Homo sapiens: one gene and its partners. The protein of the gene in region 4 interacts with the protein of the main gene of each other region in a biochemical or structural test. Each region holds a gene or a part of one and is shown on either strand. Other genes may lie near its edges. The genes, in order: DLG2, MAGI1, DLG1, HDAC7, PDZRN4, GOPC and PARD3.

Region 1 (3,500 bases), on a different chromosome or scaffold from region 4:
ACTTCTATTCATCTTCTGTATCTCATCTTAAATATTACATCTTCCCTAGTGGGATTGAGTGTTCCTTGTCTGTTTTCTTGACAAAGAGCGTTAACCTCACCACACAGCATTGAAATTGCCTGTTTTTGCATCTGTCTTCCTAATATATTTTAAGATTCATACAGGCAGAGATTGAATATCATTTGCTACTTCAAACATGCATCTGGCACTATGCCTGGCACATAGCAGGCACTCATAATACACCTTTGTTGAATGGATAAATGATTGAATAAATAAATGAAAGTAGAGTCATTGCCTTAAATATATACACCAGTTTACACCATATATACACCAGTTTACCTTTTAAAAGAATTTTAGCTTGTTTATTACCTATGAGAGATGTTTAAATAGAACAGAACTTAATAGGTTTATTCCAAGTATTACCATGCTTTTAATGATAAAGATGTCACAGTCCTTCAAAATGATAAGCCCCTGATAGAAGCTTCAAAATTGTATCCTAAATTAGGGCCTCAGTGGCTAGCAAAATGGTGTTACCAGAAGAAATGGGTTACAAAAATCTTACCCATAATCTTTGAAAGTTTAAATTTAATAATTCATTTTCACAGGATTTTCTACTTTATTATACTATACCATTCCTCTTGATCTTAAATCCTAAAATAAAGGAGGTCAGGAGAATCGTTTCATAATGAAGGTGATTTGGCCATAATTCTTGAAATAGCTTTGAAAACTTACTAAAAATTGAACCCATGCGGAAAGCTTATTAGTTGGAATTCAGAATGACTAACTGGACAGAAGAGACTGGATAAAACTCATGATCCTTTGCTGACAAAGCAACCTACATTGAGGATATAGAAATACTTGTGTCTTGACTGCCATAAATTCCTGGGCAAGAATTGTAGCTGGAGAACACATTCCCTTATCCCAATCAAAAAAAAAATCTCTCCCTTATACTAAAAAATATTTTGTAATCACTGACATGGTAACATAGTATTAAGAAATAAGCATATAAGGAGAATATATATTTAAGAAAGTATAGTATTCGTATAGTTCAGTAAATGTATTTTACAGAACAGTGAGAAATTTACTTATTGACAAAGGCATGAATGAACAGAATGCCTTAATCCAACATTTTAAAAACCCAATGTTTATCCCAGGCAAATTAACACAGAAACAGAAAACAAAATACCGCATGTTCTTACAAGTGGGAACTAAGAATTGGGTATACATGGACATAAAGACAGGAACAATAGACACTACGCAAGGGACTAGTGGGGCAAGGGCTAAAAAACCACCTATTGAGTACTATGCTCAATACCTAGGTGACAGAATCATTCATATCCAAAACCTCAGCATCACACAATATACTCATGTAACAAATCAGCACATGTACTCACTGAATCTAAGAAAAAGTTGAAGTTTTTTAAAAATAAATAAGTAAAATCCAATGTTTTGTGCATACCTCACTGACTAGATTCTTCTACCCACAAAAGTAAACAATAATAGGCCTAAGGGAGAAATCAAATATTCTATCATAAATAAAAACACTTGAGCAGATTTCCAAAAACCCAGAAGTTCACACATTTTCTAGTATCAAGTCATTAGCATATGCTTTGTACTCTCCCAATAGATATGTAAAATAAAATCAATTAACAGATCATTTTATCTCTACGTCTTCCTCACTAAGTTGCTTCATAGCAAACTCCTAATCAGTAGTTAAACACAAAAAGTATTCTTCTATTTCTCATTCTGGAATTCATTCTATTTATGCCTCCTGGATTAATTAATATTTTACAATATCAAGAGTCTATAGCTTATCCAAGGTCAAAATTGTCCCTACGGGGAATTTCTTTTAAAATAAAAAAGATATGGGATACCCAGGCTGGAGTTCAGTGGCACAATCACAGCTCACTGCAGTCTCAAACTCCTGGGCTCAGGCAATCCTCCAGTCTCAGCCTCCCAAGTAACTGGGACTATAGGCACATGCCAACAAGCCCAGCTAATTTTTTTAATTGGGGAATTTTAAATTAAAAAAAAAAACTTTAGTAAATTGTCTATTTTACTTTGACTTACAGAAAATGCAAAAGTTTGAAAACTGTGTTTTCCCATCTTTCTCTAGGATGATTCAGTGCTTAATTCTTTTGAGTTTTATGGCTGTGAAGAGATTAAAAAAAAAACTTGAAGTTTTGGAAAACAGAAAAAACATGTGCAGCCATATGCAGTGGCTCATGCCTGTAATCCCAGCACTTTCAGAGGTGGAGGCAGATGAATCACCTGAGGTCAGGAGTTTGAGGTCAGCCTGCCCAACATGGTGAAATCCCCTCTCTTCCAAAAATGAAAAAATTAGCCAGGCACAGTGGCAGGCGCCTGTAATCCCAGCTACTCGGCAGGCTGAGCCAGGAGAATCGCCTGAACCCAGGAGGTGGAGGTTGCAGTGAACCGAGATTGCGCAACTGCACTCCAGCCTGGGCAACAGAGCAAAACTCCGTCTCAAAAAAAAAAAGACAAGCTCTCCATATATTACTGGTATGGCAAACATGAAAATTCAAATACAAATTTGGTAAAATGCTTGCAAAAGGAATAAAATAACCACACAAGGCCACTCAATGAAGTCAGGTACAGGCATAGCTCATTTTATTGCACTTTGCTTTACTGCACTTTGCAGACAACACGTTTTTCACAAATTAAGTTTGTGACAACCCTGTGTCAAACAAGTCTATCACTGGCAATTTTCCACAGGATATATTCACTTCATGTCTCTGCGTCACATTTTGGTAATTCTCACAATATTTCAAACTTTTTCATTAGTCTTTTATTTGTTACAGTGATCTGTAATCAGTGATCTTTGATGTTCATTGTAATTGTTTTGGGGCGCCACAAATCATACCCACATAAGACAGCAAACTTAATCTGTAAATGTTGTGTGTTATCTGACTCCTCTACCAACTGGTCATTGCCCCATCTCTCTCCCTCTCCTCAGGTCCCCCTATTCCTGGAGACACAACAATATTAAAGTTAGGCCAATTAATAACTCTACCATGGCCTCTCAGTGTTCAAGTGAAAGGAAACGTTACACATTTCTCACACTCAAAGCTAGAAAATGATTAAGCTTAGTGAGGAAGTTATGTTGAAAGCTGAGATAAGCCAAAAGCTAGGCAGCCCTCTTGCACCAAATAGCCAAGTTGTGAATGCAAAGGAAAAACTCTTGAAGGAAATTAAAAGGGCCACTTCAGTGAACACACGAATAATAAGAGAGACACGCTTACTGTTGATATAGGGAAAGTTTTAGTGATCTGAACAGAAGATCAAACCAGCTGTAATTCCCCTCAAACCAAAGTCTAATCCAGAGCAAGGCCCTAACTCTCTTCAATTCTATATAGGCTGAGAGAGGTGAGGAAGCCACAGAAGAAAGCTGGAAGCCAGCAAAGGTTGGTTCATGAGGTGAAAGGAAAGAAGTCATCTTTACAACATAAAAGTGCAAGGTGAAGCAGCAAGTGCTGATG
Region 2 (3,500 bases), on a different chromosome or scaffold from region 4:
CAATATATTCCGGATTTTTCATATAAATGTTATAAAATGTAACACCATTAATGAGAAGATGGCATTGGGAATTAAGAAGAGAGAATGCAAACATATTTAAAATCAAGGAGTATAGTCAGGTGTGGTGGCTCATGCCTGTAATCCTAGCACTTCGGGAGGCCGAGGCAGGTGGATCCCTTGAGCGCGGGAGTTCGAGACCAGCATGGGTAACATGGAGAAATCATTTCTACTGAAAATACAAAAATCAGCCGGGAGTGGTGGCATGCACCTATAGTCTCAGCTACTTGGGGGGCTAAGGCAGGAAGATCGCTTGAAACTAGGAGGTTGAGGCTGCAGTGAGCTGAGATGGCACCACTGCACTCCAGCCTGGGTGACAAAGTGAGACCCTGTCTCAAAAATAAAAATAAAAAATAAAATCAAGGAGTACGTTTCTATAATCAGTTGTTTGCTGGCTTAGGCGAATTCATTACAATATGGTTCTAATACATGTGTAAGTTAGTTGGCTATAATGAAACTTTATGTTTGGTCTCCTTAGAAGTGAATCTAATGGGATAATAAACCACATCAATAACAGAAATGAGAAAGAGGATAGATGAGTTAGGAGAACAAGGTGGTTTGTGTCTGTCAAATGAGCAGTGGCTGAATCAGAGGTGCACCTGATGTACCAAGAATTATTTGAAAGTTTCCAGGCTGTCAGCCTCAGTATTAAGCAACTATACAAAAATCAGTGTTATTCAGTTAAGTAGGGCAGAACATTGGACTGGAAACCACAGAGCCAGGGTGAACAGCTCAGAACTACTGTGGGGTGGCACCTTCCTACCTCACAGGGAAGTGACAAATATCAGTGGAGAGGCACGTGCAGGTATGAAAGTGCTTTGTGTATCACTGATTCTTCTATAAGTGCCAGGTTTCATCATCACCATCATCATTATTGTCATAATCGTTCTTATACCCAAGTCATTTCCTACTACATACATCTTGGCTACTGTTTAAAACCAGTTCTCTGAGCAGTCAAGTGATCTAGGTACAAGAAGAGACTTGAAAATTAGTTGGTGGAAATGACATTTTAAAAAAAATAAAATTTGCACAATGCCTTTTATAACTGCCTAAGCCAGGCTCATTGAGCATTTCAATTCACATAGACAGCTACTCTGTATTTTGGGTTTCCTTCAAATGACCCCAGCCATTCTGATCGCAGAACACACAGGTTCATGAAAACATGAGAATCTGGCTGCTGTGACACAAATGAGCTCTCCTGTTGCAACAAACCAAAAGGAAGTCAAAGTCTGGTTCTTGATCTCTTTTCAAAAGGCCTGAATATGTTGTTCATGAAACAAATCATGGTAGCAAGGATCAGGGAAACAGCCATTCTCAGGCCCACTGTGTAAAACTATCAGTCACGACTAATCACATATAAGTATATATTCCAGGAGCAAGACACTTCAATATGGTGGAAAGTATTGCTCAGTGTGACGTCCTGTGTTTTCTGGTGAGGCAGAGGGTGGGATACGGACTCAAGGAGAAAGGAGGAAGCTTAATGCCTCGAGATTTAGAATAACCCAGATCTCTGAGATCCTAAACTACTAAACGCGAGCATGTGGAGGGAAGTGTTTAATATGATTAGCAGACCTCTTGTTTCTGCCAAATAGAAATAATCACATACCTATTCACTTAATACCTATTCATTCATAAATACCTAAAAGGAGTCAGGTGTTGTGTTAAATGCTGGGGATAACAGCTGTCCACATGCACACATGGGCCCTGGCTTTATGGAGCTTTATATTCTAATGAAAGACAAATAATGAAAAATAAATAAAAGCATGAAATAACGTCTTGTGCTAAAAAGGTGATGATGATCAAGGTTATGAAAAACTGTGATAAAGATTATATGGAAGTGTTGGGAGCTACTTTAGATAAAGTGATGGGAGAAGCCCTCTCTCATAAGGAGACCTGAATGGGACTGAGCCAGCTGGGAAGAGCTGGGAAAGGACCATTCCAGGCAGAACGGACAGTAAATACAAAGGGCCTGAGGCAAGAAAAGGCTTGAAGCATTAAAGGAGCTCCATAAAAGCAGCCAGTGTGGCTAAAGCACCATCAGATGGAGGAGAGGAACATGAGACAAGTTTGGAGTGACCATAGCCACATTTTGCAGGCTATGCAGGCCAAGTTCAGGAGATTTAAAGGATAAAGGTTATTATTTTTTATATATATATAAAAAAACTTTTTAGAGAATGGGGTCTCAATATGTTGCCCAGTCTGGACTCAAATGCCTGGGCTCAAGTGATCTTCCTGCCTCAGCCTCTCAAGCAGCCAGGACTACAGGTGGGTACCACCACACCCAACTTAGGTTTTTAAATCTTAACATTTTAAAAAGGCAAAATCTGATTTCTGTTTTAAGGTATCATTCTAACTGCATATGTCTGTCATAATGTATAAACCACAATTTTTATGCTAAAGAGGTTAGTATTTGGAGAAATCAGTAGGCATTTTGAAACATTTAAATAAATTTAAAAAGCCCCCAGTGGTCATCTGAAGATGAGTAAGTTAAGCAATGAATTTGGGATAAAAAAAAAATTCAAAGAACAAAACAACCCTACTTACCTCCTCGTTGCACCAACAATGTGACCTCACTTCCCTTAGGACACTCAACCAGCATATCCACCACTTGGTTGTGAGTTAGGGCCTGCACGTTCTTCTTATTAACTTCCACTATGAGATCCCCTTCTTTCAGGCCTCGGCACCTTGGGCTGTCAACAATCTGTTTCACTCTTTGGCCACCCCCACCAGGACTGTCTGCGATAGTAAAACCAAAGCCCATTGGCCCTTTGACAATATGAACAGTTATGAGTTCTGGCTGAGTGGCTATGGAGGAAGCCAAAGAAACAGTGTCATTAGGATAACCATGAGAACTATTTGAAGCCACGTCCGCTGGGCTGCTTGGCCTGGCATCCTTCATGCCATTGACTTTGCCTGTTTTACTACTGTGGCTAGCTGGTGAATCATAGGTCTCTTGCCCATTCACAATAATTGGTTCTTTATCCAAAATGGCTACCGAGGTCACTAAACTTGTATTGGGGTCATCTGGATCAAAAGGCAATGGATAACCTCGGCAGAGTTCAAGGTCCACGCTGGCACCAATGGGGATGGACTGGAAGATCTTCACAACTTGAGCATGTGTGTGTCCCAAAACACAGGTGTCATTCACACTTACAATCACATCCCCTGTAGAAGGCAAGAGTGTGGGGGTTAAGAAAACAGCACCCAGAAAATTGTCATCAGTATTATAATATCTCCCACTAACATAAAGCTGAACTGAAACTGCATGTGGGTGTGATACTATAGGGTATAAAGTGCTTCTATTACTGATTTTAACAGCTAATAAAGTGTTCTTTCAGCACCTAGTGTCTTCCCTGCTAATGAGAATGTAATAATCACTCACAGAACATTGGAGCTTTCTCCTAAAAAAAAATCTCACTGCAGAAATCCAAGTTTAGAATTCA
Region 3 (3,500 bases), on a different chromosome or scaffold from region 4:
CAGGAGGCTGAGGCAGGAGAATCGCTTGAACCTAGGAGGCGGAGGTTGTGGTGAGCTGAGATCAAGCCATTGCACTCCAGCCTGGGCAACAAGAGTGAAACTGTCTCAAAAAAAAAAAAAAAAAAAAAAAAATACATACATACATACATACATACATACATAAAATGGTAGAAATCTACTGACATGGAAAGACATTTGTCGATAAACTTTAGAAGATAAAAACAATATGTATAGTACAGAGAAATCATACTATTCACACTTATACAAATACAACTGCAGTATATCTCCCCTGCAAAAAAGGGCAACTCTGTCTACCCAATAAGTGACTGTCACAAATAAAAAAATGAGAAGGAAGAAGATTCTTCCTTTAGGTAGTCTGAGTTTTCATGTGCCTCTCAAAATGTGAGCTTCTTGCTATATCTCACTGTGCTGAGTGTGATTCTATAATTACGTGTTTTTAGTACAAGAAGTCAAACAAGCCAGTTGCTTCGTCTAGGGCTCAAGTGAAGAAATCATTCCTTTCCACTAGAGGAAAAAAAACAATTGTGCTGTAATTAACAAGAGCTAGTGTTAAATTTCTGAAGGCTTTTCAGGGATAATTTTAACTAGATGAGGTTTTTCACCTTACATGCTGATTTTAAGTATCAATTCTCACAAGGGAAATAACTGTTTTACTTAGAAGTTTGTTTTGCAAAATGAAGGTGGGGGGTGGCGTGTATACACGCGCATACACACACACACACACACACACACACAAATAACATTCCAGGATATTCATCCCATGGATGAAGTAGGAGGTAACCTCTGGTGTGAATATTTTCTTATGGTATTTTACATATAATAATCTGATCTCAAATGTTTTATATAGAACATGCATCATTTTTATAATAAATTTATTTTGGAGGGTTACAGGAAAGGCAACTAGAAAGCTGAAGAACACTGAAATATAACCCTACCATTTCAGAGGAAAAAAATTCTATCAGTTCATTTACTAAAAGCAAGTATGATTATTCAGACAATACCCAATTGAGTAATCAAAATTAACATCATCAGTGAAGGGCAGATGACATACTAAGATAATACCACAATAGTCAAATCTACTCAAGCACAAATACTCTTTCTTCTAAACCAATGTTCATTTAAAAAGTCATTTTTGACCCCTAGAAGAAAGAATATCCTATAAAATTTAAAAGTTTGTACTATTGTTTCACACACTAAAGAAAGGAAAGATGTCAAGCTAGTAGGCAAAAATAAATCACTTGAATACTTTAGATACTATTAGACTAAGAATCATACATGACTCACAAGCATATTCCATAAAACAAGGTGTGTACTAAAAGGAACCAGAGCTTCTCAGAGAAATGGCTGATTCCAGGGCTGGGGCAGGAGAGGTACAAGATAAACCTGGAACATCTTGTTATGCCAAAAATTAAGAAAGTGCTCCAAAAAATGATGAGGGCATCTCATAAGGACACAAGCTTGAAAGGGCCCCCACTGGATCACTCAGAGCACAAATGTCATTAAGGATGGTAATAAATGATAAGTCATTGAAAAAAAAACAGGTATCTGCAAGTTCATGAAAGACACGGGAAAAAAAGAAGGAAGGCTCTTGTTTAGAATAAAATGCAAAGTGTTAACTGGTAAACCTAGGAGTGTTACTGTTAGAAATCTTACTTTTCAACAACCATATTATAAACCGGTTCAAGAATCATCAATGGATGCTAAATATGGGTGGAAATTTTGCTAAGGAGTAGGATATGTACATGGTGTTAAAGTGTCTCCCCCACATATTGCCTATAAGCCACAAGGGGTAAAAAACAATGACTATAGGATACAGAATTCAGACAACACCCAACTAGGTAATCAAAATCAGTATCATCAACAAAGAGCAGATGACTCTGTGTACCTCTGGATGTACAGAATCCTAAGCCAGGAATACAAAACCTGAATCTAATCACAAGGAAACATCAGACAAACCCAAAATGAGAAAATTATATTAAAAAAAAGTAAGAGTGGAAGGAACTGCGTTTTTCAAAATCATCAATCTCAGCTGGGCGCAGTGGCTCACACCTGTAATCCCAGAACTTTGCTCAGGAGTTCGAGACCAGCCTGGGCAACACCTGTCTCTAGAAAAAGTTAGCCAGGCGTGGGGGCTCACACCTGTAGTCCCAGCTACTCAGGAGCCTGAGGCAGGAGGATTGCTTGAGCCTGGGAAGCAGAGGTTGCAGTAAGCCACCACTGCACTCCAGCCTGGGTGGCAGAGCAAGACCCTGTCTCCAAATAGTAAAAAAAAAAAAAAAAAAAAAAAAGTCAGTCTCACACAAGACAAAGAAAAGCTGTGGAAATGTGCCCTAAGTAAAGAGACGTGACAACTAACGGTAATATCTGGTCCAAGTCTGGATTCTGCACTGAGGAAAAATATGACCCTGCAGAGAGGAAATGGCTTAGAAGAAATATTTAGATGCCTTTACAACTCTGATTCCAAGGTTCTAAAGAGAATTCAGCCAGATTCAACATAATCAAAACACTGCTTCAGAGCAGTAGTAAGCAAACTATGAGCAAAGAACTCAATCTAATTGAATCAAAACCATCAAGTGAGAAGTTACTAAAATTCTCCATTTCAGGAAGTTTCAGCCAACGATGTGATCCATATCCTGTTTTCCTTACTCAAATCTAGCCTACAAAGTTACACACACACACACACACACACACACACACACACACACACAGTTAGCAAGAGACTAAAATGTAACATCAGTGGGACTAATATAATGCAAAAGAAATTTAAGAAATTTTGACATTTTACCACTATAGCTGGAAGATCTCAAACCCTGATTACTAAACACTGTTTTCAAAATGTGTGATTTCCATCATCATAAACATAATGCACCATTATAAATATTTTCCTTCAAAGTGACAATCATTTAAAGATTACTAACCCTAAAGATTGCTATCTGTCTTAAGCATGCTTGTCATTTAGTATTCTTTATCAGATTAAAATACTCAGTTCTGAAAAACAACGATAAAGAATATCCCAATGGTTGACGGTGAGAAGTATCTATGGATTCAGATTAGTTGAGTTCAATTTCTGGCTCCGCAATTTAGCATCTGAGGGTCCAAGGGCAAGATTGGTCATTTCTCAGTGCTTCAGTTTTCCAGTCTATAAAACAGTACAAACACCTCATACAGGTGAATGTACACCTCACAGGATTACAATGACTAAATGATATATTTGTATTAGCACATAGAAAGTGCTCAATAAATGTTGGTTATTATGTTTTACATACACTTGAAGAGGAGTCATATACTCACACTTATTAGGATGGCTATTATCAAAAAAAGAAAGGAAAAAAATTAAGTATCGGCAAGGATGTGGAGAAACTGGAAATCCTGTGTGCTGCTGGTGAGACTGTAAAATGCTGCAATCACTATGGAAAACATTATGGTGGGCCCTCAAAAAATTAAAAATGTAACTGCCGTATGATCCCACAATCCTATTT
Region 4 (3,500 bases):
GAGGCTACCAAGGGGCAGCAGGAGGGAAAAGAATTCCTAGGAAACCCCCAAACCGGGAGCTAAGAAGCCCACGATGACACTGGACCATGTGATAGACAAATCCAGCTTTGGAGAAGTGACTATTTCAGTCTGACCCGTGGGAAGTCTTCAGAGGAGGGTCCTGCTCATTGCGGGTGGGAGGGTCAATTTCTGTGCGTCTAGGACACCAACGACTCTCAAAATGCTCACACCATGTGACCCAGGAATGCTACTTCTTTAGAGTGAACCTTGGGAAATAATCCCAAGCATGAGGAAAGATTTATGCATAAGGAAATTCAAATAAGCTATAATCTAAATGTCTAACTGATAAGGGATCCCTCAGTAAAAATGAAATACATTAATGAAATACTATGAGACTCTCAGTTTTAAAGACTAATTATGCCAAGAAGGATTCATAATATGTTAACTAAGTAAAGCAGGATACAAAACGTAGTTCATGTGTTCATGGCATCTGTACATGTACATATGGCCAGAACAAAGCCTGGACTGAAATACAGCAGAATTTCAGAGGGTTTACTTCTGGGTGGTGGGATACTGGTTGGTGATTTTTCTTTTCTTCTTAGGTTTTTCTGTACTCTTCAAAATGTCTAAAATACTTCTGAGCTCTTTTTACAAGCAGAGCAACAGTAATAAATATCATTTTTTAAAAGGGCTGAGTGCATTGGCAGGAGACTGGAATTCTTATCCTGGCTTGACTACCACTTGCTATTTGACCACAGGCTTGTCACCTTAGATTTCGTGAGCCTTGGTCCTCATCGGCCAAATGCAATAACCAGCTGTTCCATGTGCTCCATGGGTACTACGTGGGCCTAACAAGGCTAAGCACTCTGTGGCCTCTAAAAATGTCCCAAGTGACACCAAGACACCCACATGGACTCGTGCAGCCGAGCCCCTCCCTCCACCCGCCACCCTCCTCCCGGTCTCACCTGTGGTGAAGGGCAGGGTCCTGGCAGGGGTCTCTGAGCTGGAGAGGACTCGGGCCTGGCTGGCAGGCTCTGGGGCTGACAGTGAGGCAGGTGCGGCTGGGGAAGACTGAGCCCGGGACAGAGGCCGGTGCCCACCCTGGGCCAGAGGAAGCAGCACAGTGTCCCCGGTGCTGCCCCGGGGGAGCCGCCCAGCCAGTCGCTGCTGTTCCCAGAGCAACACCTAGGGGAAAGATGGGGCCTTGGTCTCCAGTGTTTCAGGGTCCTGCTCCCTCTACTTCTGCCTGAGGTCTTGGGAACTGCCAAGCAGGCCCCTTTCCTAGAGAGATTCCAGGATAAACCTAGACCTGCTGTCCAGTGGGGCTCTGGCCTTTGACTCTCTAAGCCCCCTGTCCCCTGCAGCCCCCTGACAGGTTTGCACCCCAGACTGACCACCCATTCCACCAGCTCCCCGGGCCCTTGGGGCTCCAAAGCCAGGAACCAGGGGAGGGGCGCTGGATCTTGTGCTGACCAGGATGTCCTCCTGTCCTGGACTATGTAACTGTTCAAGAACATGTGTGTGGCCTGTCATCATGTGTTATGGAGTAAATTATGTTCCCCACCCTCAAATTTATATGTTGAAGTCCCAACCCCCAGTACCTCTAAACATGACCTTATTCAGAGATAGGGTCTTTACAAACAGAAGTAATCAAATTAAAATGAGGTCGTTAGGGTGGGCCTTAACCCAGTATGACTATTGTCCTTATAGGAAGAGGAAATCTGAACAGGCATTCACAGAGGGAAACCACATGAAGCCACAGGAAGAAGATGACCATCCACAAGCCAAGGAGAGAGACCGGGAACAGCCCCTGCCCTCACACTCACAGCCCCCAGAAGGAACCAACTCCACCAACACCTCGATTTTGACTTCCAGCCTCCAGAACTGTGAGATGGTAAATGCCTGCTGTTTAAGGCGCCCAGCCTGTATCCCAACAGCTCCGGCAAGCTAATGCACTGGGTCTTGATTCCCACAGTGAGAGCATTCTGCTGGACACGCTGGAGCCTGGCTCCATCCCACCTCTGGCCCTAGCCACCTTTCTGGATAGAGGGGAGACATACCAGGGCAGGACTATGTGTGGCTCCAGGAAAGGACAGACTCCTTCCTGGAAAAGGGACATGCTTCACCTGAGACTGGCAAGCTGTTGTGTGTATGTGTGTGTATGGGTGTGTGAGTGTGCATGTGTGTGTGTGCCTACACCTTAGTGTGGATCCAGCACCCAGGATCTTATAGGGCAACCATGGGTCCTAGAGCTGCCTGTTGCACTGATGTCGTATCTCCCTCCCTTCCCCATCTTATGCCAGGCCCCAGAGTCTTCTGAGGACACTTTCTGAGGGGCAGGTGGGGACTGCCATACCTGAGGGTGCTGCTGGAGAGGAGCGGGGCCTCTGGCCTCAGGCTGCCCATGGCCCAGCTCCCTGTGCTCCAGGCCATCGTCCACCACCTGGCCCGGTCCCCCGCCATCTGTCTCCAGGTCTTCAGCCGAGGGTATCTGCCGCAGCCGGGGCTTCTCACTCGGCTTGGCTGACCTCTGGGGAGGGGAGAACCTGGCTGAGAAGCCATGGTGGAGCGAGGGGCATGGGGTGGGAGGTGGTGGGCTGGGCCAGGCAGCCAGTCATCTTGCTAGGACTCCAGCTGCCATGCAGCTCTGGGCCCCAAGAAGCCACATCCCCCTCTTTTGCCCTCCAGTTCCCTGCCCTTTCTAAGTACCCCTCTTCTTTTGGCCCCTAAGTCCCCAGTTAAACACTCCCTCAATACCTCCACTGCCCAATTCCTCTCACCTTGATCACCTGGACGTGAGTTTTGAGCTGCTCCAGGCGGGGCTGCATGGGGCCCGGCGGTGGGGGAGCGGTGGCACTGGGGGGCAGGGGCTCTGAGCGAGTCCGGCTCAGTGGCCAGTGGAGGCCTGACCCAGAGAGCCGCTCGGTGGTCATTAAGGACTGGGCAAAGTGGAAGGGCAAGGGCCCAAGCCCGGGCACTGGAAAGAATCGGGGGGTGGAATAAGGAGGGAACCACAGGGAGCAATGGAAGGAAGCGAGGGTATAGGGTGGGGGGCCAGGGTGCAGCAGGGCAATGCGCAGGACAGGGGGACAGAGATGGGGAGGAAGGATGGGTCCATCCCAAGCTTGGCTCTTAGCAGGGTGCAGGGACCCAGCCCCTTCCCTGAAGAAGCAGCAGACTCACCAGTCAGCAGCGGGGCATGAGAGCCTGAGGGGTCCAGGAGGAGAATGGGCTGCAGGCGAGAGGGCAAGGTGCCCCCAGCCTCGGGCTCCAAGCCATGGGGCAGGAAGAGGGGAGTGTGGGGGCTCCCCAGGATTGGCCCCCGAGGGCCCAGAGTCGGATGGGTCCTGCGGTCACTGTCAGCCTGGGGGAGAGGCGGGAGAAGTCACGGGGAAGAAGATTCCAGCAGAGAACAATGAAGATGATGGGGTGAGGCAGCAAGAAAAGGGAGTGAAAGAAGCTGGGGGGGCTTGGAGTGGGGGTGGGCACCCCAGCCACTC
Region 5 (3,500 bases), 6.6 Mb from region 4:
GAAGAAAGTGTAAACAAAGAGCCATGAATGATTATCCACCCTTTCCCACTCTGGAGTTATGGTTGCATTGCCTGCTATCAGTATCATAGAAATAAGAGAGGAGACTGGGCACTATGGCTCACGCCTGTAATCCCAGCATTTCAGGAGGTCAAGGTGGACAGGTCGCTTGAGCCCAGGAGTTCAAGACCAGCCTGGGCAGCATGGTGAAACCCCATCTCTACAGAAAATTTTTAAAAAATTAGCCAGGTGAGGTGGGGTGCACCTGTAGTCCCAGCTACTTGGGAGGCTTAGGCTGGAGGATACCTTGAGTCCCAGAGGTAGAGGCTGCAGTGAGCTGTGATCATGCCACTGCATTCCAGCCTAGGTGACAGAGCAAGATCCTGTCTCCAAAAAAAAAAACCCAGAAAAAACAAGGAAAAGAAGAAGAAGAAGAAAGAAAGAAAGAATAGAGGAATCGATGCTAAAAGCAACAGTGAACTTTGTTTCTCAACTCCCTCCCACATACCACTTAGGCATCCTAACATGATGATAACTACAGCAATGGTCATGCCTTCTTCCAGAATTGTGCCCAACCTTCGATAGGATCAGGGATTTTCTGTGATTCCTTTGATTCTTGAAAGAATGAAAAACAGCATGCTTTTATTCAGCTGTATACTGTGGTGAATTCTTGGTGTATGTGAATTTCTGTGATGTTTCAAAATGCCTTCAACAATATCTTCTGCCTTTTCAGTCTCCAGTGATATTTTGACACCTAGTGTAACTCAACTATCACAACTGATTTTTTAAAATTTACAAGCATAAATAGTTTAACAAATATGGATGTGGAAATAGCTAGAAACTGGTTAACATAGTTGCTTGTGGAGACTGACTCCAAAAATTAACTTGCCTTATATTATGTGAAAAATATGACATAGGTTTACCTAATGACAGTAATTTTTTATTCTTTTATTATTCTTGAATTTTATCAATAGAATGCAAATATTAAAAAATAATACGTGTTACTAGCCTTTGTTGAACTGTGGCAAAACTATTATAACTAATATATTATTTATTAGAGTTTATAAAATCTTTTTAACCACCAACAGAACAAAACCTTTAACATGTCTACTTCCTCTTCAAGTGAATAACTTTGGAAAATTTTATTATTTTTTAAAAACAATTCATAAACTTGTATGTGTGCATCAAGCAATTAGCTACAGAAAATATTTTTGAGCATATCTTGACTATATATAAACCATAGAATCTCTTATTGTTTTTATTTTTTATTTCAGTTATATATCAGTAAATTCAAAGCATTTAGTAATGTGTCAGATTGTGCATAAGTCATACGGATAATTTTATAATATATGAACTAGTTTGTACCCTTTACACTGTTAACAAACTTACTTGTTGCACCAGGTTTAAATCAGCATGACCATTTGAAATTCAAAAATTGAGCCATTAAATTTGTTCAATGAACAAATCTTTGATCACAAAACAGAAAATAAATTATTATCTTTACTTTAAAAATCTGTTTTAAAATATGCATCTGCACATTTTAAATTGATAGATTTCTTCTCAATTTCCAATTAGCTAAAAACTGCTTAAAGTTGATTGATATCATAATGACAGAGAAACTAAAATAATGATAAGCATCAAATATTTCTAACTTTAATGATTACATAGGGATCTTTTACAACACACACCATATGCACAAGAAAAAACACACTTCTTGTTTAACTAGATATTAAAGTCACACAAATATCTATTCACTCAAAAAGCCGATAGCATCACTGAACAACTAAGCAAGAGCAATTTATTTCTAATAATCTTCTTTCTAAAATATTTCATGCTATTTAACACACAACATTCTAGAAATATGCACCTCATCTAACCCATTTCTTAACTGCAAATGTGGTCACATTGATCCATTCTACAACTATAGCATATATACATAAAATCAATGTACCCTGGTATAAAAGACACATTGAAAAATCTATATCATTGAGACAAATTTCAAGCTCTAGTCATTAACTGCTAATATATGCAAATGAAAGTGAATAATAATACCGCAGCTAGTTAAATTTCATTTGAATTTCTGTGGTTGACCTCCTTACTTTTTATCTTACAGGGTTTAAATAAGGTTAATCTGACATATATTAGTAACAGTACTATGTAGGTGTCTAGATGCACTTGATTTTCAACCATAGTTTTATAAAATTACCTCTTTAAAAAAAACAGTAGGTTTGTAACCAAATTGTTGTATGACAATATAAAAAATTCTTTTTCTTTTCTAATGTAACATTAATGAAGCATACATAATATTGTCATCTAGCTAGAATAAGTTATTTTTTAAATTGCCAATACGTATTTCTGTTGTGTCTATGTGTTTGTGTGGGTGTAACAATATATGTATTCAGTTCCATCAGTTCTTCTAATAATATCAAATGTAGGAATTTATTTTCCATTGGTAACTGGACAACTTAATATGTTTTTGAGATAATGCAGAAAGTAATAGGGACAATCTTCTGTTTAAAGTATGTTGCCCTTTAGATCATACTGTGCACATTCTAACTTTAGAAGCTACAGCATGTGAATGTTTCCACTAGACAAATTGTCAAGATGAACTGGATAGCAACAGCAAAAGTAGGTCTGCACTTTCTCGGCAACAAAACTGGAAGAATAAAAATCTTGATACAAGAGACCTCTTTAGATATAAATCAAAGTTTTTTTTTTGGCAAAAGATAACTCTTCTTTTTTTTCTAAATTTTGTAGTCGGCTAATTTATAAATGTTGTGTTCTTTTTTCCCAAAACAGCAAACTATTGGGTCTTCTATATTCTTCACTCTTACTCTATGTCGATTCATTAAAAATTCAACTTTGTTTAGTGCACAGAGGATGAATGAAAAGCTAAAACTTTATTTAAAATTTAATATAGAAAATCTGCCTCCATTCTGATAGTTTATATAAGTATTCAGAGAGATAGCACTAGTGATTATATAGCCTAGAGTGAACAGAATTTTTAAAAACAATAGTGGAGTCAAGTAAACCTTCCAAATTCCTATTTATAGCTTCACTAATCCATTGGAAATAAACTCACTGATAAAAGTAACTTAACCATTTTTGGCAACAAAAAGTAATATTATCTTAACCAGTTAATAAAATGTCAAAAGGACAGAGATGGCAGATGGCAGGGACATAAAATTTCATTAACATAACCCAATTTTACTAGCATATAGGTGCTCACTTTATCACCCCCGAATACAACAATACAGTTAAAACATACAAAGAGTTCTCACCAGGTTTTCACAACAAAGAGAAAAAAAGGTATTTCTCTTTTTCTTTCATATAAAAGATAATGACAGGAACAAGGTAGCCATATTACACCAAGAAATATTAAAAGTATTGTATAATTTATTCCAAACTCTACATATAAAATATTAATTACAAATTTAAAATATAATCATAGTTCCTCATCAGAAATGTTCCTCAACAGAGATTTATCATCCTTTTTTGAAATG
Region 6 (3,500 bases), on a different chromosome or scaffold from region 4:
CTGTTGGCAATCACTGGCATCCCTTGGCTTGTAGATACATCACTCCAATCTCTGCTTCTATCATCACATAGCCTTCTTCTCTGTGTCTGTGTGTGGCCTTTTCTGTCTCCTATCAGCACACTTTCATTGGATTTAGGGCCCCCTCTAATCCACTATAATCTTACCTCCATCTTTACATAATTACACCTGCAAAGACCCTCTTTCTAAATAAGGTCACATTCTGAGGTTTTGGGGGTGGATATGAATTTTGGAGGGATACGATTCAACCCACTACAGATACTGATCAATCATTTCCCAAACAGAAATGCAGTGTTATCCTTAACCCTTTCTCTTATCTCCTGCATCTACATAATTATCAAATCCTGTCAATTCTCCTTCCTTAGTCTTCAATTTATCTCCTTTTCATCAGCCCCATTACCACTTTCACTTCAATAACACACTTGTCTGTATAACAAACTCCTTTGCTATAACATTGAATAAACCTAGTTATTACTCTCATTACTGTGCCTGTACCTAAACAGATATGCATTGCTAGAGAAAATCACACAACAGTACAGACCGGTTGCACCATAATTTATGATAACTAACCCCAAGCCATTCCTCAACAATGCCTGGCAGTCCTGTTTCTCTGGCCAATTGGCTCTCCCACTCTTCCATTACTATCTCAAACCTCTTCTACTAGCCTCATGCTCTTACTCTCACCTACTTTTAGCAACTGACGTGGGCTCCTATTTTACAGAAAAAAAAAAGCCATCAGACAGAAACTTCCACAACCTCCTACTGTCTGCTCCCATTCTCTCCCTCTTCTAAGTAGCTGTTATTACAAAATCTTACTAATATTAACTACCCCACTCTTTTTCTATATTTGGCTTTTCTCTCAAGTAGATGCTTCTCACAGACTTATGTTTTATTTGTTTTTATTTAAAAACAAAATGAAAACAAAACCTCCCTTGTACCCTACAATCTCACTTCTTGCTATCTATTCAGCCACACTCACTCTTTCTGTCTGCTTCTCTCTCCACCTCCTCCATCCCCCATCAGACATAATGTGTTTGTGCAGAGACTGATTTCTCTAGCTCCGTAGCCTCAGGCCTCTTACTTAATCCCTGTAAAGTTGGAGTAACTATACTAATAAACCTGTTTCCAGGACTGTTGTGAGAATTGGATGAATCAGTCTATGTAAAAGACTCAGAAGAGAGGTTGGCCCATGGTAACTGATCAATAAAGTTGGCAATATTGTTATTGCTAATAATATAACACATTCATCTATCTATTCAGGCAACCAGCTGCACAAGATTGTCACTTGGATTTATCCTGAACTCCCTCATCCCTCTGTTCCAATCCATCTCTAGGTTTTTTTTATTTTTACCTCTCCAGTTTCTCTTGTTCTGAATACCTTCTCCTACCTCTATTATCTTACTCCACACTATCATAATCTCACATAAACAGAAACCTTCTAAACAATTTTCTGCATTCATTCATGTCATTCTCTGCAATTTTCTCCATACCATAGTCAGAGTGAACTATTCTAACTTCATATCTGAGGCTACGAACTGGTTTAAAAGACTTCCCACGATTATGATAAAGCCCCAAATATTTTTGCATGGCCATAAAGTCATGTAGAAATAGTCCCTCTCTGTCTGTTCAAACTTATCTTGTGCCTTGCTTCTTTTGCCCTCTTCTCTTGTTACACATACCAACTATCTCTCGAATCTTCAAATGCACTATGCGCTTGCCCACCACAGGTGCTTTTCACTTCCCATTCCCTCTACGGCAATGTTGAATGGCATTCCTATTTCTCTTAGCTTAATTCATTCCTATTTACACATAATTCCTTTATGTCTTAGCTCAATAACTTCCTCAGGGAAGCCTTCTCTGACATCCCAAAATAGGGTCTCATTTACTCTTATGTACCTTTCATAGTATTCATCAAAGTTGCAATTTCTCATTTACATGATTATTCTCCCAACAAATTCCTCCAATATAATCCAAACTCCATAAAAGCCATGACTACATCCCTTTTTTGCTCTCCATTGTATCCTAAGTGCCCAATACAGCATCTGGCACATAATTCGTGTTCATAAGTGCGTACTGGATCAATATTAAACTTAAGCTTCAATGTTGCAAAACAGCCTATTTAAAAACAGGACAGATTTAAAGCAGCAAAGGGACAAGCATATCACCAGTTCATTATCAATGTGGCTCTAGATCAAAGTTAAAAGTTTCTCTACTGTTGGCTATGAATAATAAATCACTTCAAAGAGATACTAACAGAGCAATTGCTGAGGGAAAGGAGGATGTGAAAGAAGGTGTATTGTTGTGCTGTTACTTTAAAAAAGGAGTAACAGGCAGAACACTCTTTCAAGGCAGAGGTGAATTTTTTAAAGTATTGGTTCACAATCTTTATTCTATTCCAACACACCTACTACTGCTAGTATTACTATTCCTACTGTAAACCTAAAAGGAAAAGGCTGAGGCACAAAATATACTTTAGTTTACCTGAGCCAAAATGAGGACAGCTACTCAACACATATTTCCCAGATGCCTGGGGAGTGCTCTGGCACCTGAGTTACAAGCAGATTTTAAAGGGAAAAAGGAACAAGGCAGATACAAAGTTGCTTGATAAGAATTCTCATTGGTTTACAATCACTGATTAGTGACTGGCTATTCATTGTTGCACTATAAGGTATGACTTATGGTGTCCAGCATATGGTATTTTATGGCTACTTGGCGTCAGTTAGTCTAAATCCTACATAGAAGGTGGCTTCCAGAGATAACTGCTTAGGTCAAAAGGGAGTGCCATAACTGCGGTTTCATTCCAATGCCTCTCTAGGCCTCACAATGGAAAGGAACTCAGTTGTGTTTTGTTTTGTTTGTTTGGGTTTTGTTTTGTTTTTTCAATAGGTTTCTGGGGAACAGGTGGGGTTTGGTTATGTGAATAAGTTATTTAGTGGTGATTTCTGAGATTCTGGTGCACCCATCACCTGAGCAGTGTACACTGTATCCAATGTGTCATCTTTTATCCCTCATCCCCTTCCCACCCTTTACTCCAGATCCCCAAAGTCCATTGTATCATTCATATGCCTTTGCATCCTCCTAGCTTAGCTCCCATGTATGAGTGAGAACATACATTTTGTTTTCCACTCCTGAGTTACTTCATTTAGATAATGGTCTCCAATCAATTCCACCCAGGTTGCTGCAAGTGCCACTATTTCATTCCTTTTTATGGCTGAGTAATATTCCAGGTGTCTGTATATATACACACCACATTTTTTTAATCCACTTATTGATTGATGGGTATTTGGGCTGGTTCCATATTTTTGCAATTATGAGTTGTGCTAGTATAAACATGTTTGCAAGTATCTTTTTCATATAATGACTTCTTTTCCTCTGGGTAAATACCCAGGAGTGGGGTTGCTGGATCAAATGGTAGATCTACTTTTAGTTCTTTGAGGAATCTCCACACTGTTTTTCATAGTGGTTGGTGGTTTACATTCCCA
Region 7 (3,500 bases), on a different chromosome or scaffold from region 4:
CAGTGAGCCGAGACTCTGCCACTGCACTGCAGCCTGGGCAACAAAGTGAGACTCCGTCTCAAATACAAGAAGGGAAAAACCAGACACTAGAAAAATATACATCTGAGTTCCAAAACCTTAAATCTTACAGTGTCTGAATAGTTAAAAACACCAAGATTGGGAGAATGTTGACTTGACTATCATCTCTAAAATGACTTAAATTTATACCACCATAAAAGATCACCCCAGAAATACACACGTATGTGCATATATATATATATATATATATATACACCGTACAGTTCGTATCATGCAATATCATACATCTGTAATTCACAAAGGGAATTGTCTTAGTCACTTCTGAGCATGATGTGATTTACATTAAAAGATACTTACCTTGAGACAATAAGAAATTCTGGGGCCGGGCGCGGTGGCTCACGCCTGTAATCCCAGCACTTTGGGAGGCTGAGACAGGCGGATCACGAGGTCAGGAGATCGAGACCATCCTGGCTAACACGGTGAAACCCCACCTCTACTAAAAATACAAAAAAATTAGCCAGGCGTGGTGGTGGGCACCTGTAGTCCCAGCTACTCGGGAGGCTGAGGCAGGAGAATGGCGTGAACCTAGGAGGTGGAGCTTGCAGTGAGCCGAAATCACGTCACTGCACTCCAGCCTGGGCGACAGAGCGAGACTCCGTCTCAAAAAGACAAAAAAAAAGGAAGAAGGAAGGAAATTCTGAAGGACACCCTAGACAAATTTTTTTTTTCTGTTAGAGACAGAGTCTCGCTGTGTCACCCAAGCTGGAGTGCAGTGACACCATCATAGTTCACTGCAATCTCAAACTCCTGAGCTCAAGCAATCCTCCCACGTCAGCCTCCTGAGCAGCTGGGACTAAAGATGCACACAACCATGTCTGGCTAATTTTTTTTTTTTTTTTTTGAGATGAATCTCCCCATCGCCCAGGCTGGAGTGCAGTGTCGCTATCTTGGCTCACTGCAACCTCTGCCTCCCAGGATTCAAGTGATTCTCTTGCCTCAGCCTCCCAAGTAGCTGTGATTATAGGTGTGCACCACCATGCCCAGCTATTTTTTGTACTTTAAGTAGAGATGGGGTTTCACTACTTTGGCCAGGCTCGAACTCCTGACCTCGTGATCCACCCACCTCGGCCTCCCAAAGTACTGGGATTACAGGCGTGAGCCACCACACCCGGCCTATGCCTGGCTAATTTTTTTAAAAAGAGACGGGGTCTCACTATGTTGCCCAGGCTGGGTCTTGAACTCCTGGCCTCAAGCAATCCTCCCACCTCAGCTTCCCAAAGCTCTGGGATTACAGGCGTGAGCCTTCTCACCCAGCCAACCCTAAGCAAAATTTACCCTAACTCTGAATAGCATCCATTTGACCTGGAGAGCAAGCCCCGTCATTTCAAAGTTGGGGGGGTCGGGGTGAGGCAAAATATTCTCACAGCATGGAGGGAAGCAGTAAGAGGTCCTGGACCCTGTATAACCATCTGAAAAGCCACTGCACATCACTTATGGTCCCATGAGCACCAAAACAAACCATGCAGAGCAGGAGTCCCTGCACAGCTCAGGGAACTGGCAGTGGGAGTCCAGCCCAGCACCTCTGAATATGAGAACATGGGGAAACAGAGGCTCACAGAGCTTGTAAGATTTGCCAAAGCTCAAAATTTCTGGGAGCCAAAGCCAAATGCTGGAAAGGCTGGTCCATTACGTGCATCCTTGGGGCATTCTCAACCTCCACTGCACAAAGGTAGCTGGCGAGCTGGGTAGAAGGAGTCTCTGGCTAAAGAACAATTGGTGAAGCCCTTAGAGGGGGTAGGGGGTAGCACACAGAGACCAGGGGACCTGGAGGCTCAGCAGCCAGGAGCTTACCAGACACTAAACAGGACACATTGGACAGGCCTGAGAAAGCAGGGATTCCACACTATATGGAAAACTCCTAAAGACAGCCAGTTTTCATTTGAAGTGTTTTGAGCATCTCTGATACACATATATATGTCATTTTATGAAATGCTCAGAACTACAAAATACCTAAAAATGGAGCGTTGTTCATAGTGGCTTATGCAGTCTATTTTTCTAACATCTTTATTGACATATAATCACATAACCATAAACTCCATCCATTGAAAGTATACACTTGAATAGAACTGTGCAACCATCACCATGATCTTAGAATATTTTCATCATCCCAAAAGGAAACCTCATACCCATTCACAGTCTCCATGACTCCAAACTCCCAGTCCTAGCGGAACACCACTCTACTGTCTCTATAGAGCTACCCACTCTGGTCATGTTATAGGAACAGAATTATACAATATGTGGGCTTGCTGCTATGAACACTGATGTACAGGTTTTGTGTACACATTTTCATTTCTCTTGTGTGCTTGTGTGTGTGTGTATATATATAAAGAGTATATATAAAATATATACAGAATAGAGTACAGAGACTATATACAAAATATACTCTGTTTAGGTGAAAAAAATAAATAATTGATATTTAAAGTCACTTGGATGTGGAGCTTGAAATTTTACTTGCAAGGACCAATATGAGTTGATGGAGAAAAAAGGAATACACAAAAGTAATATTTAAATGGCAAAAACCACGTAAAGATAGCAGGCCAGATGCAAGAAGGCACAGACCTATACACGAAAGTTATTTTAACTTTATTTACTAAAATGTTTACTTATTTACTAAATAAGTTAAAACAAAGTTATTTTTACTTATTTGCTAAAATTTAGGCCAGGCATGGTGGCTCGTGCCTGTAATCCCAGCACTCTGGAGGACCAAGGCAGGTGGATTGCTTGAGCTCAGGTGTTTGAGATCAGCCTAGCCAACATGGCGAGATGCCGTCTCTACAAAAACTACAAAAATTAGCCAGGTGTGGCGGCACACAACTGTAGTCCCAGCTACTTGGGGGACTGAGGCAGGAGGATCGCTTGAGCCTGGGAGGTTGAGGCTGCAGTGAGCAGAGATCACGCCACTTCACTCCAGCCTGGGTGACAAAGACCCTGTCTCAAAAAAAACAAAAGAAAGAAAGAAAAAACTTGTAAATAATGACTAAAAGACAAAAAAAAATCAGTCATCTTTCTACTTTATTCACTGAACTCGGCATTTATTTTGATAAAGATTTGCTTTTGTACAGAAAAGGTACCCAAAACAGGTAAAACTGTATACATTTACTGATGTCCAGCTCTACTGCCATTGACCTTGGTCCCAGCCAGGAATGTTGAGCGAGTGGCCAAGCAGGATGAAAGCATGCTGTGTGGGCTTAGCATGCCATCTCCCCCGATGGAAAATTACCTATAGAAAGCACCTTCTGGCCCAATCTTACATGTTTATTTCCATCCTTGATAAAAAATACCGAGGGCTCTAATCATCTATGGGGAGCTCAACATCACCAACTTGCACCCAACTCTGTGGGGAGGTAGAACCTCCCAGGACAGACGGAGGATCCGTCTGTGGGTTTGCATCCAAGTGGGACTTTAAATATTCCCTCCACAAC

The links.
Region 1: the proteins of HDAC7 (region 4) and DLG2 interact in a test that uses a peptide from one of them, tested with the Homo sapiens proteins (one large-scale study listed by IntAct).
Region 2: the proteins of HDAC7 (region 4) and MAGI1 interact in a test that uses a peptide from one of them, tested with the Homo sapiens proteins (one large-scale study listed by IntAct).
Region 3: the proteins of HDAC7 (region 4) and DLG1 interact in a test that uses a peptide from one of them, tested with the Homo sapiens proteins (one large-scale study listed by IntAct).
Region 5: the proteins of HDAC7 (region 4) and PDZRN4 interact in a test that uses a peptide from one of them, tested with the Homo sapiens proteins (one large-scale study listed by IntAct).
Region 6: the proteins of HDAC7 (region 4) and GOPC interact in a test that uses a peptide from one of them, tested with the Homo sapiens proteins (one large-scale study listed by IntAct).
Region 7: the proteins of HDAC7 (region 4) and PARD3 interact in a test that uses a peptide from one of them, tested with the Homo sapiens proteins (one large-scale study listed by IntAct).

What each region holds. Positions count from the first base shown.
Region 1 is NC_000011.10:85,617,345-85,620,844, forward strand, and holds part of DLG2 (disks large homolog 2), read right to left. Parts: intron 1-3,500. UniProt on the Homo sapiens protein: Required for perception of chronic pain through NMDA receptor signaling. Regulates surface expression of NMDA receptors in dorsal horn neurons of the spinal cord.
Region 2 is NC_000003.12:65,426,919-65,430,418, forward strand, and holds part of MAGI1 (membrane-associated guanylate kinase, WW and PDZ domain-containing protein 1), read right to left. Parts: intron 3,223-3,500; coding exon 2,602-3,222; intron 1-2,601. UniProt on the Homo sapiens protein: Plays a role in coupling actin fibers to cell junctions in endothelial cells, via its interaction with AMOTL2 and CDH5. May regulate acid-induced ASIC3 currents by modulating its expression at the cell surface.
Region 3 is NC_000003.12:197,288,613-197,292,112, forward strand, and holds part of DLG1 (disks large homolog 1), read right to left. Parts: intron 1-3,500. UniProt on the Homo sapiens protein: Essential multidomain scaffolding protein required for normal development. Recruits channels, receptors and signaling molecules to discrete plasma membrane domains in polarized cells.
Region 4 is NC_000012.12:47,792,404-47,795,903, forward strand, and holds part of HDAC7 (histone deacetylase 7), read right to left. Parts: intron 3,365-3,500; coding exon 3,184-3,364; intron 2,978-3,183; coding exon 2,781-2,977; intron 2,531-2,780; coding exon 2,357-2,530; intron 1,186-2,356; coding exon 966-1,185; intron 267-965; coding exon of another isoform or gene 256-266; exon of another isoform or gene 1-255. UniProt on the Homo sapiens protein: Responsible for the deacetylation of lysine residues on the N-terminal part of the core histones (H2A, H2B, H3 and H4).
Region 5 is NC_000012.12:41,194,820-41,198,319, reverse strand, and holds part of PDZRN4 (PDZ domain-containing RING finger protein 4), read right to left. Parts: intron 1-3,500.
Region 6 is NC_000006.12:117,592,512-117,596,011, forward strand, and holds part of GOPC (Golgi-associated PDZ and coiled-coil motif-containing protein), read right to left. Parts: intron 1-3,500.
Region 7 is NC_000010.11:34,805,297-34,808,796, forward strand, and holds part of PARD3 (partitioning defective 3 homolog), read right to left. Parts: intron 1-3,500. UniProt on the Homo sapiens protein: Adapter protein involved in asymmetrical cell division and cell polarization processes. Seems to play a central role in the formation of epithelial tight junctions. Targets the phosphatase PTEN to cell junctions.